Homo sapiens: one gene and its partners. The protein of the gene in region 1 purifies or fractionates together with the protein of each later gene. This does not show direct contact. Each region holds a gene or a part of one and is shown on either strand. Other genes may lie near its edges.

Region 1 (5,442 bases):
TTGTTCAGACTTCTTTGGCATGCTCATTCTTCTATTTCTTGCAAATTTCATAGCTAAGCTCAGAAATGACTCTCACGTTTTGTGGTTATCAGATCTGAAAATATATATATGTAATAATAGTGAATGTGGAAGTAAATTGTTGACCTAATGGAATGCTCAGAGGAAAGAACAGGTTGAGAGTGAGGCCAAGGTCACAGATTTGATCTCAGGAAAGCTTTGTTCTATTTCCCAACCACAGACAACTCTCCCAGTCCAGACCAGTTGTGCCAGAGGAGACCAAGCATGGGTCCAAAATTCTGTATATACCGTGATGACAGTAAATGTATTAGCACCGCCAGAATGCGGTTCACAGTTGTGTCTTGTTGACGGCAGACCAGCAGCCTCATCACCGCAGAACAGCACACTGAGGCTGCTGTTAACATGGTCAGGTGTTGTTCCTGTGGCCAATGGGATGTTTTTAAAGGTGGGAAAGAGAGTGAGCAGGTGTGGCCTGGGGCTTCCTAGATATCCAGGCAAATGACTTAGCATCATGGGAGATTTCTTGTTCTGCTTTGTGGAGTTCACTCATCTCACTCCCTCAAACACCTTAGCTTTGTGGAGACTTGTTGTATTGCTTGTATTCTGACCTAGGAATGTCTTCCCTTCTTTTCTGTGGCTTTTGTAGTTATCAATGCCCTGTCTCAGAGATATTTCCTTCAAGCCAATGATCAGAAAGATATGAAGGACTGGGTTGAAGCCCTGAACCAAGCCAGCAAGATCACCGTAAGTTTGGTTTCTTCTGTTTTCTGGTGGTAGTAAAAGTGCCTCTTCCCAGGCTATGGCCTTGTTGGGGTTGGGGAAAACTGAGATGGCAGCGGGGACTTTCCCAGGAGCCTGGTCTGTACCCAGTTCTCTCCCACCTCGTCTTTTTCCTTGGCTGACCAAACACAAGTTGAACTGAGAGTCTGAGTTTGAATCAAGTTCAAGGGGAAGTTCATGGAGCGTCCCCTTTGTGCTTCCTGGGAGGGCTCCCGATCAGTCATGTTTCGGGTGATTCTGGGATGCTGATTCAGAATGTGGTAGGATTGGAAAATGGATTGGTGACTGTGAAAAGTCAAGTAAGGGGAAAAGCATATGGGGAGGGAAGTCAGAACTTTTTCCCAGCTTGGGGGATACTCTTCTTACTTTCAGAGGCTGCCTGCAGGGTCAGTCCAAGCCATCCGCCTCCCTGTCCTAGAAAAGCCTTCTGTTTAAAAGCATCACAGAGCTCGTTCATGGACTGTCCTACGAGTGTGCTCTTTTTCCTTGAGTTGGCTAATGAAGAATTCCTTTCTTTTTCCTTAGAGATATAGAAAAAGAAAGGAAGAAGGGTAGGAAGGATGGAGAGGGGAAACTATGTTTTGGAAAAAACTAGACTTTTAATCAATAAGACAGGCAGACTCCTGGCTTATATAGATCATGGCTTCTTTGCTGAAAAGTTTGTTTCTGTATCATACAGTCAGAAATGCTTATGTTTGAGGGGCTTCCAGTAGTGACTATTACATGCTGCAGCAAATTATCCTCCCAGATTTCTCAGGGTTCCTGTGAACAACTGTATAGAAGAAATTTGTACACGTATATAGTATTCATATTGCTAGACCCAACCTGAGTGTAATTGAGTCTCCTATAAGCACTTTTGCTGATTAGCTTCTTATTCTGATAAACCTTGGTAAACCCGTGAAAAGAGAGAGTGATGAAAAGAGAGAGGATGGATGGCTGGGTGCAGTGGCTCACGCTTGTAATTCCAGCACTTTGGGAGGCCGAGGTGGGTGGATCACCTGTGGCCAACATAGTGAAACCCCGTCTCTACTAAAAATACAAAATTAGCTGGGCGTGGTGGCACACGCCTGTAGTCCCAGCTACTCAGGAGGCTGAGGCAGGAGAATCACTTGAACCTGGGAGGCAGAGGTTGCAGTGAGCCGAGATCGTGCCATTGCATTCCAGCCTGGGCGACAAGAGTGAAACTCCACCTCAAAAAAAATAAAAAATAAAAAAATTAGCCAGGCCTGGTGGCTTACACCTGTATTCCCAGCTACTTAGGAGGCTGAGGCAGGAGGATCACTTGAGCCCAGAAGTTTGAGGCTGCAGGGAGTTATGATCGCACCACTGTACTTCAGCCTAGGCAACAGAGTGAAAGCCCATCTCTTAAAGAAGTCTCAGGTAGTGTAAACAGCTTTGGAAAGGCTCTGCATGTTGATCTGAAGCACTGCATGACACCGGAGCATAAGCACTGACAAACAGTGTTCTTCGGGATTTTGAGAGGAAACACAGCAGCCAAGCTTCTGTGCCTCCTTTTCTGGCCACTGGGAACTCTAAAAAGTTACTTTCTGGCCAGGCGCGGTGGCTCACGCCTGTAATCCCAGCACTTTGGGAGGCTGAGGCGGGTGGATCACAAGGTCAGGAGTTCGAGACCAGCCTGGCTAACATGGTGAAACCCCGTCTCTACTAAAAATATAAAAACTAGCTGGGCATGTTGGCATGCACCGTAATCCCAGCTACTTGGGAGGCTGAGGCAGGAGAATCACTTGAACCCAGGAGCTGGAGATTGCAGTGAGCCGAGATCGCGCCACTGCACTCCAGCCTGGGCGACAGAGCAAGACTCCATCTCAAAAAAAAAAAAAAAAAAATTGTTATTTCCCTCCTTCTTTGCTGGGTTTCAGGAATTCATCTGGGTCATTTAGGGGAAATTTCTGCAGTTCCATGGTGATTTTAATCACTAAATATCAACTAAAAATCAACATCCCTAAAAATGTGGTTACATAATAACAGAACTCACAGAAAGTGAGAAAGAGTAGCTTAGGTAGGTCGTGACATGCAGCAACAAGGAGTCAGGCAGTCCTAGAGCCAAATCACTTAATTTTAATGAGCTTGAGTTGACCTCATCTATAAAGTGGAGAAAATCATGCCTGGTTGATAAGATTAGTGATAATGCAGCAAAGAGCTTATCAGTGCATTGCCTGGCACTGAATGGTGGCCCAGAGAAACTGTAACTGCTGGTATCTCTCAGCCAGAAAGAAAATAGAAGGCGGAATTTCTGGCCTGATTTGGAGGGGTAGGGAGGGGGCAGAGGACGTCCTTGTCTATGTAAACTGAGTGTGCAGTCCAGGAAGAGAAGGTCTCGTTGTCTTTGTGGGGGCCCAGCATAATCAGGGTGCTCTTATTGTTTTGAACAGACACCAAATGACAGGGCTGTCATATAGCTCTGAGCTCGGATCCTTAGGTCTTTCTTACTCTGAAAGCTGTAGAAGTGGGAGAGGACCTTAGCTTTTCTCTCGAAGTCCCGGTGACGTCCCGGCAGATAGATGTAGGGTGTTGCGTTCTCCTGAAGGTGGGGCATTGTGATGCTGGGGCACTGGTGGGAAGTCAGAGTTTAGTAGACATTCAGCTGTTTTTTTGTTTTGTTTTTGTTTTGAAACGGAGTCTCGCTCTATAGCCCAGGCTGGAGTGCAATGGCGTGATCTCGGCTCACTGCAACCTCTGCCTTCTGGGTTCAAGCGATTCTCCTGCCTCAGCCTCCTGAGTAGCTGGGGTTACAGGTGCCCGCCACTACGCCCAGCTAATTTTTGTATTTTTAGTAGAGACGGAATTTCACTATATTGGTCAGGCTAGTCTCGAACTCCCGACCTCAGGTGATCCGCCCGCCTCGGCCTCCCAAAGTGCTGGGATTATAGGCATGAGCCACTGTGCCTGGCCGACATTCAGCTGTTAATCCTGGCTTTGGGTAAATGACTCAACTGTTCTGGACCTCTTTTTTTTTTTTTCTTTCTAACAAAATGAAAGATTTCCTCAGCATTTGCAGACTCTAGTATAAATGAGTGAAGTGGGCAAGGAGGAGGAAACAGGGCAACAGGAATGAGGATAAGTGACATTTGACCCCTGGCCTCTCCCGTTCTGCTGGGGAGAATGGTAGGGACTGTGCAAACACAATGTATTTTCTATCTAAAAGGGAACTGCTGCATAGCTGAAAATCTGGATTTTTCTGTGAAATATCCCAAAACTTAGATGCAGATTTTAAAAAATACTGCATGTGACTAACAAAACATTGTTTGGGCAAAGTCAGTGGGTGGGCCACCAATTTGCAACCTCTGGCCTGTGATTTCCAACTAACAATAAAAATTTTATGATGATTTGATCAGCTGTGGTACCATATCTCTGTCAAGGAAGAGCAAAGATAGCTCATTCTTCCAAAAGGGCTCTGTGTATAATTATTAGTAACAACGTGGGAAGCCTTAATTATAATATTTTGTAATATGTTTTTCTTTTTAGTTGTGTTTCTAAAGCATTTAATATACTCTATCATTTGATAACCACAACGATGGTTATGATAAATATTATTCCACTTTTCATTTTATGCATGAGACGGTTTAGGCCTAGAAAGGTTTGATGGTTGCCAAAGGTCTCTCAGGTGGTTCGTGAGAGGTGAAGGGTTATACCACACATCTTCTGGCTCCAGACTTCATGGACCCCTTGTTCTGTCTCTACAAAGGCATGCATGCATTTTTACCTGTTCAATCTGCCCAGAATGCCTTCTCCCAGCTTCATGTTCCTGGTTCCTTTTATTTAGTTTTTTATTTTGTATTTTTTTCGAGACAGGGTCTCTGTCACCTAGCCTGGAGTACAGTGGTGTGATTATAGCTCACTTCAGCCTCCAATTCCTGGGCTCAAGAGATTCTCCTACCTTGGCCTGTTGAGCAGCTGTGTGCTACCACACCTGGCTAATTTTTTTTTTCATTTTTAGTAGAGATGGGATCTCACTATGTTCCCCAGGCTGGTCTTGAACTCCTGGGCTCAAGTGACCCTCCTGCCTTGGCCTCCCAAAGTGCTGGGGTTACAGGTGTGAGGCCCCGGACCTGGCCCCCATCTCCTGCTTACCCTCCAGGTTGCCGTTTGAGTGTCTCCCTGCCTTCTCCTCTAGAGACCTCCCTGCCCACTCTGTTTCCAGCAGGTCCCCTGCTGTGCGCTGCCTCAGCTCTCTTGATCTTCTTTGTGCCACTCACCACCATTTGTAATTACTCTGTTTGTTTTACGTTTTTTTTTGTCATTCCCCCTACTAGCATGTAAGTGCCGTGAAGGTGGGGACCCACGTGTGTTTCGCTTGACACTTTATCTTTGGTTTCTAGCCAGGGAAGGGCTGGCTCATAAGTAGGCGCTCAAGAAATTCCTGGAGTCAGTTTGTATCTGTGTAGGGGGAGGGCGTTGCTGGTTGAGATGCTCATATTCAGATTTGGACTGTGGAAGGCTTGGGGAGGACACGCAAGTCTGACTGTAATTTGGCACATGAGCTTTTCTCACGGCAGCCCCATTCTGTTTTGGGCTCCCCATGTTTCCTAAATGTTCTGTTCCCCATTGATTGTTGCTGCCGCTCACCCCAGGTTCCCAAAGGTGGGGGCCTACCCATGACCACTGAAGTTCTCAAGAGCTTAG
Region 2 (4,514 bases), on another chromosome or scaffold:
AACAATATTGTTGGTGAAAGGCTTTTTTGAAAAGGTCTGAATGGTTACAGTGGGCACTCCACGTGGTCTAAACTGCAAGAGTAGCAAAAATAAATAAAACAGTAGCATAAATATCAGCTCCTCCCTTTAGCCTTCCTGGTCATCTCTGTGATCCACAAAATCCATTGCTTCCTCGTCTATATATGCAATGTCCTTGCTGCAGCTCCAGTATCACACTTAACACCTATTCCTTTCCTGTCTCAGTATCCCCAGTACCTATATATGCCATAGTTCATAGCATATAATCTATAGTAAGTACATGTTTAGTAAACATTTGTCTTGATTCAAAAACCTTTACCTTTTGGTTTTTACTTTCCTATGTCAAAAATGAAGTTGGACCAGATTGTACTTCCCTATTCTGAAATTCTGTAATAGCCTCTAAAACTGTATTTAAAGGGAGTATTATATTAAGCAAAATGTATATGAAGTTTATACCGTAGAATTACTTTTCTCTGACATCCAGCAAAGTTGCTAGTAAAACCAATCTATTAACTCTAAAAAAATAACATCTTCTCACCTCGGAACCCAGTAGGTCCAGGTTTTCTACAGCCGTGTTTCTGCCAGCATCAATCACACTATGCTTTTTCAGTATTGGTTTCCCTGCAGCACCTGACTCAGAGTAGCTTAGTAGGTATTTATTAAGAAATAAATTAATGACTATATATACACACATATGACCAGAGGTGCTAGAGTTACAAACACCTGAGTCAGTCTCACCTTCCAAGTGGTGAGACTGAGTGGCAGGTTAGTTGTTGTTAACAGCTTCATTCAGTGGCGATCATTAGAAAGTCAGGAAACAACAGATGCTGGAGAGGATGTGGAGAAATAGGAATGCTTTTACACTGTTGGTGAGAGTGTAAATTAGTTTAACCATTGTGGAAGACAGTGTGGCGATTCCTCAAGGATCTAGAATAGAAATACCATTTGACCCAGCGATCCCATTACTGGGTATGTACCCAAAGGATTATAAATCATGCTGCTATGAAGACACATGCACATGTATGTTTACTGCGGCACTACTCACAATAGTAAAGACTTGGAATCAACTCAAATGTCCATCAATGATAGACTGAATTAAGAAAATATGGCACATATACACCATGGAATACTATGCAGCCATAAAAAAGGATGAGTTCATGTCCTTCGCAGGGACATGGATGAAGCTGGAAACCATCATTCTGAGCAAACTGTCACAAGGACAGAAAACCAGACACTGCATATTTTCACTCATAGGTGGGAATTGAACAATGAGAACACTTGGACACAGGGCAGGGAACATCACACACTGGGGCCTATCGTGGGGTGGGGGACTGGGGGAGGGATAGCATTAGGAGAAATACCTAATGTAAATGACGAGTTGATGGGTGCAGCAAACCAACATGGCACATGTATACCTCGGTAACAAACCTGCACGTTGTGCACATGTACCCTACAACTTAAAGTATAATTAAAAAAAGAAAAAAGAACAGCATTCAGGCCGTCATTCACAAAGGAAACTGGTTAAGAAAGTCACAGCACGCCCTAGAAAAAGATTGTGATTGGCCAAAATGCCCTTCACAAGTACTGCATATATTTAATAGTAATCATGGTGAAAGTTGACATGGTTTTTGCAAGAAATCATGTGAGTGGTAGGAAGCATCATAGCACTGTGTAGTGCTGTACGTCTTAGCCTGCATCACCCAGATACCGTGCTTGTTTGACTTCTAAAAGGATGTTTAAGACAAATACAAATCAGTGAAGAATGGAGTTTACTTTCTCTGTGGCCCATAGTCTGTGCGGCCTATAGTCTATTCACATTAGAAAAACTGAGAGTTCAGGTCCAAAGAACTTCCTATGAGTGTTGAATGTGTTAGAATGTTTGCTACATCGTGAGTAATCAAGTGAATGAAGTAATAATAATAGTAACACTACCTCATACTCATGCAGCACTTACCAGGACCAGACTGTTCTAAGCATTCACATATATAAATTAGTTTCTCAAACAACACTGTGAGATAGATACTACTGGATTTCATAGATTATAAGATGTACATTTTAACATCTCTGAGGGCTATGTCTTATGATATGGCACCATACAGTTATAATTGCCAGCAGTTTTTCTTAGAGTCCATAAAATAAGATTGAGAACTAGTGATGTCTTAAATTTGACTTTTTTTAAAAAAGTGACATCCAAATTTATAAATGAAGAAACAGAAATGCAGGGAGGTTAAGTGGCTTGCCCCAGGTTGTGCAGTCAGGAATAGCATAGAGTTAAAATGCAGGAGGTCTGCCTTTGTATTCTCTTGGTATCTACTGTACAAGTTCATTGTGTGCTCTGGAGTTGGATTTCTCAGTCCTGGTTCTACTTAAGTGTGTCTCTGAGCAAGTTAACATAATTTCTGTGTGCATCAGTTTCCTCATCTGTAGGACAAGAATAATAATGATACTAACTTCATAGGTTTAGGTAAGGATTAAATGAGAAAATGTATGTAAGTCCTGAAAGCAGTGTTTGGCACATTGTGAGCGCTGAGTACAATGTTAGTGGTAGTAGTGTGGTGGTGGTATTTAGGAAACATTGTCTAAGAAGCACAGAATAGAATAATCTGAAAATAAGGCAAGAAGATTTTTCCCAGTTTTTCAAGCATCACTATAAAATGCCTGCAGCCAGGTACAGTGGCTCACAGCAGTAATCCCAGCAATTTGGGAGGCTGAAGCAGGCAGATCACTTGAGTTCAGGAGTTCAAGACCAGTCTGGACAACATGGTGAAACCCCATCTCTACAAAAAAAAGAAAAAAAGAAAAAAAAATTAGCTGGGTGTGGTGGCGCGTGCCTATAGTATAGGTGTGCTACTCGGGAAGTTGAGGTAAGAGAATTGCTTGAGCCCAGGAGGTTGAGGCTGCAGTGAGCCGTGATCATGCCACTGCACTACAGCCTGGGTGACAGAGTAAGACCCTGTCTCAAAAAAAAGAAAAAAAAAAAAAGTCTGCAAAACCAAGTGTACTTTGCTGATTTGCCATTCTAATATCCCTTTAATTTTCTCATTTTCTCTTATTCTAAAATATAGTCGTCCCTCAGTATCAGGGCAGGGCAGGGATTGGTTCCAGGACTCCTTATGGATACCGACATTCATGGATAGTCAAGTCTCTTCTATAAAATGGTGTGGTATTTGCAGATAGCCTATGCACATCCTCCCATGTACCTTAAGTCATCTCTAGATTACTTTTAATAGCTAATACAGTGTAATTGCTATGTAAATAGTTGTTATTCTGCATTTTAAATTTTGTTTTACTTTTTATTGTGGCATTTTTTTGGTTTTTGGTTTTTTTTTTTGAGACAGGATCTTACTCTGTCATCCAGGCTAGAGTACAGTGATGTAATCATGGCTCACTGCAGCCTTGAACTCCTGGGCTCAAGCGATCTTCCTGAGTAGCTAGGACTACAGGTGCACACTACTACACCCAGCCAAATTTTTTTTCTATTTTTTATAGATATGGGGGTCTCACTGTGTTGCCTGGGCTGGTATTGAACTCCTAGCCTCAAGCAATCCTCCTGCCTCAGCCTCCCAAAGTGCTGGGTTTACAGGTATGAGCCACTGCACCTGGCTGTTTTTGGGGTTTTAAAAGATATTTTTTATTTGCAGTTAGTTGAGTCTGTGGATACAGAGGGCTGACTTTACTTACGTTCCTATAGCTTCAACAGCTCTTAATAATTTCAAAGGAGAGGCATTTTTAAGGTAGCAAATTATTGAACCTAAGTCTTACAGATTTCCTTTTGTTTTTTGATTTTACAAAAAAACATTTCTTCCAGTAGATTAATAATGAGCTAACATTTTTTGAATATTTACTCTGTCGATGCAGTTATAAGCACTTCACATTTAACCCTCATAGCAACTTTATAAGGAAGGTATAATTGTTGGCTCCATTTTATAGATGAGGAAACTGAGGTAAGAAGTACTTTGCACTTTGCTCAGACTTACATGACTAGGAAGAGCAGAACCATGGTACTTTAAAATTGATGACACTTTCACAGTGGATAACTTACCTCTCAATGCAAAATCTATGCTCAAGGTCTGACTTCCAGTAATTTCTGGCACATTTGGGTTTTGAAAAACAATTGGTGGGACCCTTGATATGATGCAATAAGAATAGCACTTTCTAAATCTTCCTCCCAAGAACCAATAACCCTACTTTAATCATGAGGAAAACATCTGACAAATCCCAATTGAGAGACATTGTACAAACTGCCAGCCAGCAGTCCTCAAAACTATTAAGGTCATCAAAAACAAGGAAAGTCTGAGAATTACCATGGCCAACTCAAGGCTAAAGAGACATGACGAAACTAAATGTCATGTGGCAACCTGGATGGGATCCTGGAACAGAAAAAGGATGTCAGGCAAAAAGCAAGCACATTTGAATAAAGTTTGGACCTTAGTTGCTAATACTGTATCGATATTGGTTCATTAATTGTGATTTGTGTACCACAGTAGTAGATGTTA
Region 3 (4,514 bases), on another chromosome or scaffold:
ACGCCATACACCCCTCCCACGCCATACACCCTCCCATGCCATACACCCCTCCCACGCCTCCCACGCCATACACCCCTCCCACGCCATACACCCCTCCCACGCCATATACCCCTCCCACGCCATACACCCTCCCACGCCATACACCCCTCCCACGCCATACACCCCTCCCACACCATACACTCCTCCCATGCCTCCCATGCCATACAAGCCCTCCCACGCCATACACCCCCTCCCACGCCATACATCCCTCCCACGCCTCCCATGCCATACACCCCTCCCACGCCATACACCCCCTCCCACGCCATACACCCCTTCCCATGCCTCCCACGCCATATACCCCTCCCACGCCTCCCACACCATACACCCCTCCCACGCCATACACCCCTCCTATGCCATACAACCCCTCCCACCCCATACACCCCCTCCCACGCCATACACCCCTCCATGCCGTACACCCCCTCCCAAGCCATACAACTGAACACCAGGCTCTGGGGGCCGCCATCCAGTCCCAGTGGGGTCACCTGGAGGCTGTGTCACCAGGAGCAAGGAGTTTAACGTCACCGTGCCTCAGTTTCCTCATGTCTGTAATAGCGAGCGTGAACTCAGTGAGAGACTAAGGCCTCCAGGGCAGGTCTGTGTCTTTCTTGGACACATAGCCCTTAGTCCGTGGAAGGAGGGCGGGAATTTTGATGCTTTTCTGTGAAGGAAAGGGCTCAAGCATCAGTGACCAAATCTCTGGGAGCCTCACCTTCTAGAAAATTGTCTTGCCCATCCCTCCAGGATTCTCCCAGGGTTGCAAATAATCCCCAGGAGGCCTGAAGCCCTCAGGGCCCCCTCCCCAGGAACTTCCCAACATCATCAGCCCCTTCCTTAGCACCGTCCCTGTCTTACAGACAAGGAAACTGAGGCTCCTGGAGAGTATGCGACTCATCCAAACTCACACGCTGGATGTATTCCCTCAACCTGGGCCCAGCTGGGGGCCTTCTGGGAGGAGTGGCATTGGAGAGCTCCTCTGTCCTGCCATGGGAGGCCCAGCCTTCTCCCACATGAAGACCCCTCAGGGCTAGAGCCCGGGGCACAGATGAGGAGAAAGGCAGGCCTAGTTCCCACCCCCAGGGACGGCGTTCCATGACATTCTGCAAAGAGTCCGTGTGACTTCCCATGTCCATTTCAAGCTGCACAGTTTCCCTGAAGTGAAAAACCACAAAACCCCTTCTGCCGAGATGCTATGCAGGCCTGGGGGCCGATGTCAGAACCAAGAGGAAGGAGAAGGGAGGGGAGGGGAACTCTGGGCCCTCCGCCAAAGCCCGCTTGCTTCTCTGTGGCAGGATGGAAGGGGATGGACGCTGGTCACCACCTACCCTGTGCCAGGCACTGAGCTGGGTGCTTCCAACAACACCGGGGTGAGTTCCCATTTCACAGACCAGGAAACAGGCCCAGAGTGGGGAAGCCAAGGCCCGAAGGCACAGAGCTGGGGGGAGAAGTCGGGATGGCAGGAGGGGCAGCCCCTGGAACAGGGGAGCCCACTGAGGCCAGGTGCTGGGGAGAAAGGAAGGGTGGGGCAGGGACGAGGAGCCTGAGGCTCAGAGAGGATGTCACTCGCTCTGAGTCACATGCTGGGCGTCTCCCCTCTACCTGGAGGCATATACGCCCACCAGGGATCATGGGCAGTGGTTGTCATGGGGCTTGGCTGGCAAGAGCAGGGTGCCCTGAGCTCAGCCCGGAGTCTGGTCACCACAGCCCCCTGTGTTGAGGAGGTGTCACTGGGCACTTGGCCACTGTCTCCTTATAAGGGACCACATCTGCGTCCACTTCCCCCACATCCACCAACTGCCTTTTCCCTGGCACCCAGCCACCCACTCACCCAGGACAAGGGTCCTGAGCTGGGGGGCCAGGGCTCACTTTGGCTCGGCCTCTCACTGCTCTAGGACTTTAGTCAGTTCCCCCTCTCCGGGCCTCAGTCTCCCATCTGTCTAGGACTCATTGCCATGCGATGGCTCATCAAGCTGAGGCAGGGGGCAGGGGAGCTACAGAGAGGGCAAGGAGGGTGAGGGGGCGGTGGGGGCAGTGGAGGTGCAGGGAGGACAGATGGCCCTCAGCTTTGTGGCTTAGGGAGCCAGTCCACCCCTGTCAGAATCCTGGCTGGGTGGCCTTAAGCCAGCAACATGTCCCCCCGAGCCTGTTTCCTCTCTGTAAAGTGAAGGTGACAAGAGCTCTTCGTCATAGCTGCTGTGAGAATGAAGTGGCTCCCAGGAAGTGCTCAGTCCACATCAGCTGTGATTATCAGCTGGGCTCAGGGCTGCCCCCAAAACTTGTCATCCCAGGGCTGGGGAGTCCAGGTGGGCAGAGGCAGTTGCTGCTTCCCTCACTATCCCTGCCAGTCCCCCCAGGACTCCCCCTAGGCCTAAGCTGGTCTGAGGCACAGTTAAAATCACTGCCCCTGCCCCAGCTCCATGCAGGGTCAGCCAGGAAAGACTGGCTAGAGGCCAAGGCAAGAACTCTGAGTCACCACCTTATGGAGGAGAGAGGGCCTTTGGGGATTGTCCAGGTCAGCTTATGTGGAGAGGGAGACTGAGGCCCAGAGAGGGGCAGCCACTAACCCAAGGTCACACAGCCAATCAGTATCAGAGCCAGGACCAGAATCCAGGCCTCCAGCACCCTCCACATGATCCCAAAGCATGTGCTTTACAAGGGAGAGGTCAGTGACAGCCAGGCCACAGGCTGGAGAGCTGCACCCTGAATAGAAGGAGTCCAGGGGCAGGGGTTGGAGGGGTGCTGGTTGGTCAGAAAGAGAAGGCAGGGATGAATCCTTGATATTTAAAAGGAAAGACTTGCAGGCTGGGGAGCTGTGGCCCTAGGACAGGGGAAGGGAGCCAGGGTGTGAGCCATAGTCTGAGGCCCCCGGGGAAGATGGCTGTGTCACCACGCTAGTCACAGAAGGAGGGAGGTGGTGGCTGCGGTTTCTCTTCCTGTGAAGAGATGTGAGTCCCCAGGGCCCTCCCAGTTCCGGCAGGGGGAGGTGGGGCGGGGCTGGGGCGGTGGGGCGGGAGGAGGTCTAGTGGATTCAATTTGGGGGCCAAACCCTGGGCCTGCAGAGTCCTGTGGTGAGGCAGAGGGCACAGCTCATATGACCAAACCCAGCTGGTGGTTTTGGGCTTTTGGGCAAGGATCCCTGAGCTACAGACACATTGGGACCTACCAGGGACAGGGACAGGAACAGCCAGCAGGCCTGGGTACCATGCATGAAGCCAGACCCATGGTCATCGCCTCCCTGATGCAGGCAGCCCTGAGCCACTACAAAGAAGCACCCCCCAGCAGTGAGCCAATAATTTGCTGTCCTTCCTTCAAATCTGGCTGGGCCACCTACTAGCTGGGTGACCTTGAGAAGTTACTATATTTCTCCAGCCCAGTGATTTGGAGGCAAAGAGGGGTCGAGCTGAGAAACCAAAGGGAGTGGGGAAAGGGAGGAGAGAAGGTGGTGGAAGGAAATGTGTCACCCTTTAGATCTAATGCAGCGCCACCTCCTCCAGGAAGCCTTCCCAGAACACCCAAGTTTGACTTGCCACTTGTCCTCCAAGCAACCACAGCACCCCCACTCAATCTCTGCTTCTGTCTGCTCAAAGCACACCTCCTTATTTTCAGTATCTATTAATAGATACTACTCATACTACTAGGACGACTACTACTAACACAGAGTGCTTCTCACACACAGGTGCTGCCCTGGCAGCTCCACCTGGAATAAGTTACTGAATTCCCCCAACCACCCCAGGAGGCAGGAGCTATCACTATCCCATGCTTTTCTGATAAGGAAACACAGGCAGAGAGAGGCTACGTGACTCGCCCAAGGTCACACAGCAAGTGCACAGCACAGCTGAGTTCAAACTGCACAGCCTGGCCCTGCAGCCCGTGTTTACAATCACACCACGAGGCCAAGTCAGGGCCTCCCCTGCAGCCAGATCGCCCCTCTGAGCCCGAGGCCCATACCAATCTCCTTGGCCAGTGCCAGGCCCTGCGGGTAGGTGATGGGAGCCAGCTTCTTCTCCTTCAGTTTCTCGATGGTGTCCTTGTCGTCCCGCAGGTCCAGCTTGGTGCCCACCAGGATGATGGGTGTGCTGGGGCAGTGGTGCCGCACTTCTGGGAACCACTGGGCAGGTGGGTGGGGGGACACAAGGTTGTATGGGTCAAGAGGGGGCGCGAGGCTGTGCGGGGATCAGAGGGAGTGTGAGGGTGTAGGGAGAGGAGAGGCAGCAAGTTGCCAGAAGATCAGAGGTGGGCACGACGGTGAGGAGAGAGAGACGTGAGGTGGCACAGGGAGGGGAGGCCACGACGTTGTGCAGGAAGGAGGGGGCGCATGATTGTAGGAAAGGAGGAGGCGAGGTTTTGTGCAGACATAAGAAGCAAACATGAGGTTATGTGACAATCGGAGGCGGACATGAGGTTGTGTGGGGAGGAGGAGAATGCAGCCATGGAAAGTGGGGGTATAGCTAACTATCGCAGCACCCCCCACCCCAGGT
Region 4 (4,514 bases), on another chromosome or scaffold:
TACTCTTTCATTTGGTGCTGGTTGCTATGAGAACCACCGGCATGTCCCCTCCAGAAGCAGTCCTGACAGAGCTGGTAATTGTGACACTGTTGGCATCGGTAGCGAAATCCCATCATACTCTCACTGTGGCAGTAGGAACACTCAACCGGATGGAAGACTAAGGGGGAAGTAAGTGAAGAAAAACCAAGAAAACAAAAGTATGAACCAGAAGAAGGAAAAATACAGCCTTACAGGAATTGCACCTTTCTTCTCTGCACCACGATTTCAGATGATAGTTGATTTGGGCTCAGAGAAACATTTAGTTCATTCCTGGAATCTTACAACCCTTTTCAATCATGCCTGTGGGGAAATGAAATGAAATGGGATGGAGAAGAGGTGTCCTTTTAACAACAAAAATCTCTGTAATGCCATTTGCTCTTTCTATTCCCATCTCTCACATTACAAGAATTTAAATTAGCCAAACAGACTTGCCTTTACCCCAAACTGCTCTCTGTCTCCAGGAGACCAGCACAGCTCACTGGAAGACTCAGAAGCACAAGGGGTGAATGCTGATTGTCCAGTGGGAAGAGAGCGAATATCAGAGACACGGAGAATGAGAGGAAGAAAAAAGAAAGGAAGATGGGCAGAGAATGGAAAACTGGTGTGGATGAGATAATTAAGTTATTTTTTAAAAAATAGAGTGACTAATGGCTTACTTAACGAGTGGTGTTGCCTACATCTGACAAACAGATTTTTTTTTCTTTCCTGAGGCAGGTGTATAGGGCCCTAAAAAAGATGTGCAAATTATCTGAAAACAGTTCTAAATAATTCAAATGCCTCAAGAGACGGTTAACTTTCTTTGGTAGGAAATTTGAATTATAAAGCAGGCAAAGCAAAATACTAGATTTGAAGCAAAGTAAAATATTAGATTTAAGTGATCAAATCCAAGTAATTGTCTACATGCTATGAGCTAGATACTAAAACAACAATAACAATTCTTGCCTTTGGTAAAGCTATTCTCCGGCCTAACCAGTCAGGAAAAACAATGAAAATAATAATAAATGAAGATAAAAAGCAAAGTGTAAAAACAAAGACATAACTAGCTCTGGACGCATTGTCTTCTAAACAAGTGTCATAACCTTTCTTCCCGGCTCTTGAGAAAGACTAGAGTGGGACTTCAATCTAGGGACAACTGTTCTGGGATGGTGCCTAAGAAACTGATCTCCTGCAGCAGGAAATGCTGAGAGAGAACGAAAGAAATTATAGCTTTATGATTGGAAAATGACTAGTTCTAGAACTGTAAACAGTAACGTGAACTCATTTTGCATAATAACATGGACCTTGATTGCTCTTCGCTTCTGCATATGGATAAACATAAAAAAACTATGATTGTTAGTGATTGCAAAAAAATAAAATAAATTCATTCTTTAAATTTTCTCCATGAGAAAAACAGGATAAATTCATAACTTCTAACTAACAGATAAATAAGGGCAGATGCTAAAAATTCTGAATGATAATTTAAAATTAAGCTAACTTTAGCTGCAATGTATATTAAAGAAATACACAGAAGTTGAGTAATATATAGAGACTTAAGTTAAATCTCAGTAAGAGATAGAGACTAAATTATTTCCTCGTCAAGTCTGGAGAAATTTCAGAGTTACATTGAACAATAAGTAGGAACACCTAAAGATTAGATGGAGGCACTGAACTGCTCCATGTTTAATTTTCTGTAAATTTTGCCCCAAATGGTATTTCATATTTAAATCTGGATATGCCAACAGTAGTTCCTTTTATCCTAGAAATACTTGCTTTAAAAAAAGACATGATACGAAAGTTATTTTACTCTTATCTTTAACGTAAGTACAACTATTGAAAGCTCACAATCTGGAACATATGACTAAAGATTAACAGGGTGCTATCATCTATTTTTTTTTCTCATTTCTCCCACCTATTTCTGGCTGAGTGCCTGGGAAGAAATAATCAGTACCGTGTATGCAAATATGAGAAATTCGGATCTAAAACAAATACAAAATAATGTCACACTCCTTGTTGAAGTTCGCCTTCTATCGTGCCAAGTCTTTTAACCACACCTGACTTGTAATTGAGAAGAAGACCATGAGATTTATTTTTGGAACTGACAGTCCTAATTTTTCAGTGGTCCTTTAAGGCCTTCCCGAACAGGGAGATGGGTTAGTTCTACCCTAAACAAAACTAAGAGCCACTAAATAGGCTTCCCTAAAACAACAGCCTGGGCTTACTAACTGTAGAACTAATGGCCTAATTTCAATAATTTAAAAAATCACCTTTGCTCCTTAGTAACTACTCACCATTTTCCACATTTGCTAGTCGATGCAGAAGAGGCAACCAGACCAGACACTGCGGGGGAGGATCTGACATAAGCGTGTCCAAGAAACCATTTAACGTGACTTTTTTCTGCATAAAAAAACCCCCCATAAATTTAGGACAGAGAATCATCTCAATTTACCTGCTATGTAAATATCATATCATTTGAGACTGAAACAAAAGAGCACTCAATAAATGTCTAATATCTGAAGAAACAGAACTTGCCAAATGTGTTATTAAACTAGTTTAGAACTGAAAACATCGTTTGCTTTTTATACCTAAGCAGACATAGGACTGAATTCTCTCCACTGAGGCTGAGTCAATAGTATCACCAGGAGAAAAACAATTCCAAGAGCATCATTTGTATATATGAAAGACAGTATAAAAATAATGAAGCAAAATAAAGAATGGAAATTCTCCATGGAATTTTACTCAAGAACGCATCATAGCTCACTCTACAATTTTCCTGTCAGTCAGTCTTCTAAATTTATAGAACAACTTCCCTTCTGAGCTTCCTCAACTTCCTTAAGTACTAAATATTTAGTGGTTAATGTGAATGGTTCTGTTATACAAGAGCAGGAGGGAATCCTGTTAGGACAGAACCATCTACATTTTTAAAAATTTGCTCCTTTTATTACTTTATATATAATTCCTCTCAATTCAGTCTGCTTCTTTCTCACTATCCAGGTCCTTTTGGATGTACAAAAGGAATGCATTGTATCTATAAGTTTCTTTCAAAATGATAAAAGTAAGAAAGCTATATTAATACATGTACTGTAATGGTATAAATAAAAAAATACATATTTATATGCAAAAATCACTACTTGAAATTTTGAACTAGAATATCAAAGGGGATGGGATAATTTTATTTATTTATTTTTTAAAATATTTTATTTATTTGCTTGAAAGATGGGGTCTCATTATGTTGCCCAGGCTGGACTCTAACTCCTGGTCTCAAGCTGTCTTCCTACCTCCTCCTACCTACCTCAGACTCTTGAGTAGCTGTTAATAGCCAATTCATTAAGTACAAAAATAAACTGGTCTTATTATTTTTGTGTTACCTCTTTTCATATTTGAAATGATCTTATTCATTTTGACTATTTGTCATACTTGCTAAAAAGCACTCCTGGAAGTTTCCAACAATGCTATTATGATTTCAACATGTATAAGTTGCTTATCATTAAGGATATATATAAATCATATAACAGAACAGTCTATAGGATATTTCAAAAGGAATTTTGAACATGTCAACATCACATATAATTCTTGAACACATAGGTCCTTTTTTCTCTTTTTTTTTTCTTTTAGAGACAGGATCTCACTCTGCTGCCCAGGCTGGAGTGCAGTGGCACAATTATAGCTCACTGCAACCTTGAACACCTGGGCTAAAGGGATCCTCTCATCTCAGCCTCCCAAGTAGCTGGGACTATAAGTGTGTGCCACCACACCTGGCTAATTGTTTAATTTTTTTTTTTTTTCAGAGATGAGATCTTACTATGTTGTCCAGGCTGGTCTTGAACTGCTGGACTCAAGCTCTCCTCCTGCCTCAGCCTCTCAGTGCTAGGATTACTGTGTGAGCCATCACACCAGCATAGGTCCTTTTAAGATTTTTTTTTTAAAACCCAGTCCTATTATTCTAGCTGATTTTGAATGAGACATATATTCTGAGGCATTAGCACATTTACCAATTATTCTATAATACACTAACTAAAATTCAAGAATTCAGTTATAAATGAAATTATTCTTGTTTCCATGACTGGGTGAAGTAATACAACAGGTAGTTACATTTCCTTGAGTCAGATCATCTGCATATTTGTAAATATGAACTGAAAGTGCACAAAACAAAAGCAACAACAACAAGAACACAAGAATAACATTAACAGATGGAATTAGAAGACCAGAGTTAAAAACTCAGCCCCCTGCCCTCACTAGCTATGAACTTTATATTGTTAAAAAAGAATCATATTTTCCTTGTTAGGTCACAGGGTTGTTGCAAGCCATAAATCAGATAATTCACTTTGTGAGGCATAAAGCACTGTAAAAATAAAAGGAGCCATACATTTAGCATGCCATGAGAAAAGTTGGAAAGCAGTAAAATTGAATGAAAAAATAGATTTGTGTTTTGAAGTGATTGACTTTTTTTTTTTTTTTTTTTTTGAGATGGAGTCTTGCTTTGTCTCCCAGGCTGGAGT

What was found. The genes of interacting proteins can lie anywhere in the genome.
Region 2: the proteins of PLEKHA2 (region 1) and RALA purify together in Homo sapiens (affinity purification with mass spectrometry, with the first as the bait; one large-scale study listed by BioGRID). This does not show direct contact.
Region 3: the proteins of PLEKHA2 (region 1) and RAC2 purify together in Homo sapiens (affinity purification with mass spectrometry, with the first as the bait; one large-scale study listed by BioGRID). This does not show direct contact.
Region 4: the proteins of PLEKHA2 (region 1) and DTNA purify together in Homo sapiens (affinity purification with mass spectrometry; one large-scale study listed by BioGRID and IntAct). This does not show direct contact.

The regions. Positions count from the first base shown.
Region 1 is NC_000008.11:38,945,460-38,950,901, forward strand, and holds part of PLEKHA2 (pleckstrin homology domain-containing family A member 2), read left to right. Parts: intron 1-664; coding exon 665-762; intron 763-5,390; coding exon 5,391-5,442. UniProt on the Homo sapiens protein: Binds specifically to phosphatidylinositol 3,4-diphosphate (PtdIns3,4P2), but not to other phosphoinositides. May recruit other proteins to the plasma membrane.
Region 2 is NC_000007.14:39,692,081-39,696,594, forward strand, and holds part of RALA (ras-related protein Ral-A precursor), read left to right. Parts: intron 1-4,514. UniProt on the Homo sapiens protein: Multifunctional GTPase involved in a variety of cellular processes including gene expression, cell migration, cell proliferation, oncogenic transformation and membrane trafficking.
Region 3 is NC_000022.11:37,227,247-37,231,760, forward strand, and holds part of RAC2 (ras-related C3 botulinum toxin substrate 2), read right to left. Parts: intron 4,145-4,514; coding exon 3,985-4,144; intron 698-3,984; coding exon of another isoform or gene 660-697; exon of another isoform or gene 493-659; intron 1-492. UniProt on the Homo sapiens protein: Plasma membrane-associated small GTPase which cycles between an active GTP-bound and inactive GDP-bound state.
Region 4 is NC_000018.10:34,813,807-34,818,320, reverse strand, and holds part of DTNA (dystrobrevin alpha), read right to left. Parts: intron 2,413-4,514; coding exon 2,307-2,412; intron 360-2,306; exon of another isoform or gene 158-359; coding exon 1-157. UniProt on the Homo sapiens protein: May be involved in the formation and stability of synapses as well as being involved in the clustering of nicotinic acetylcholine receptors.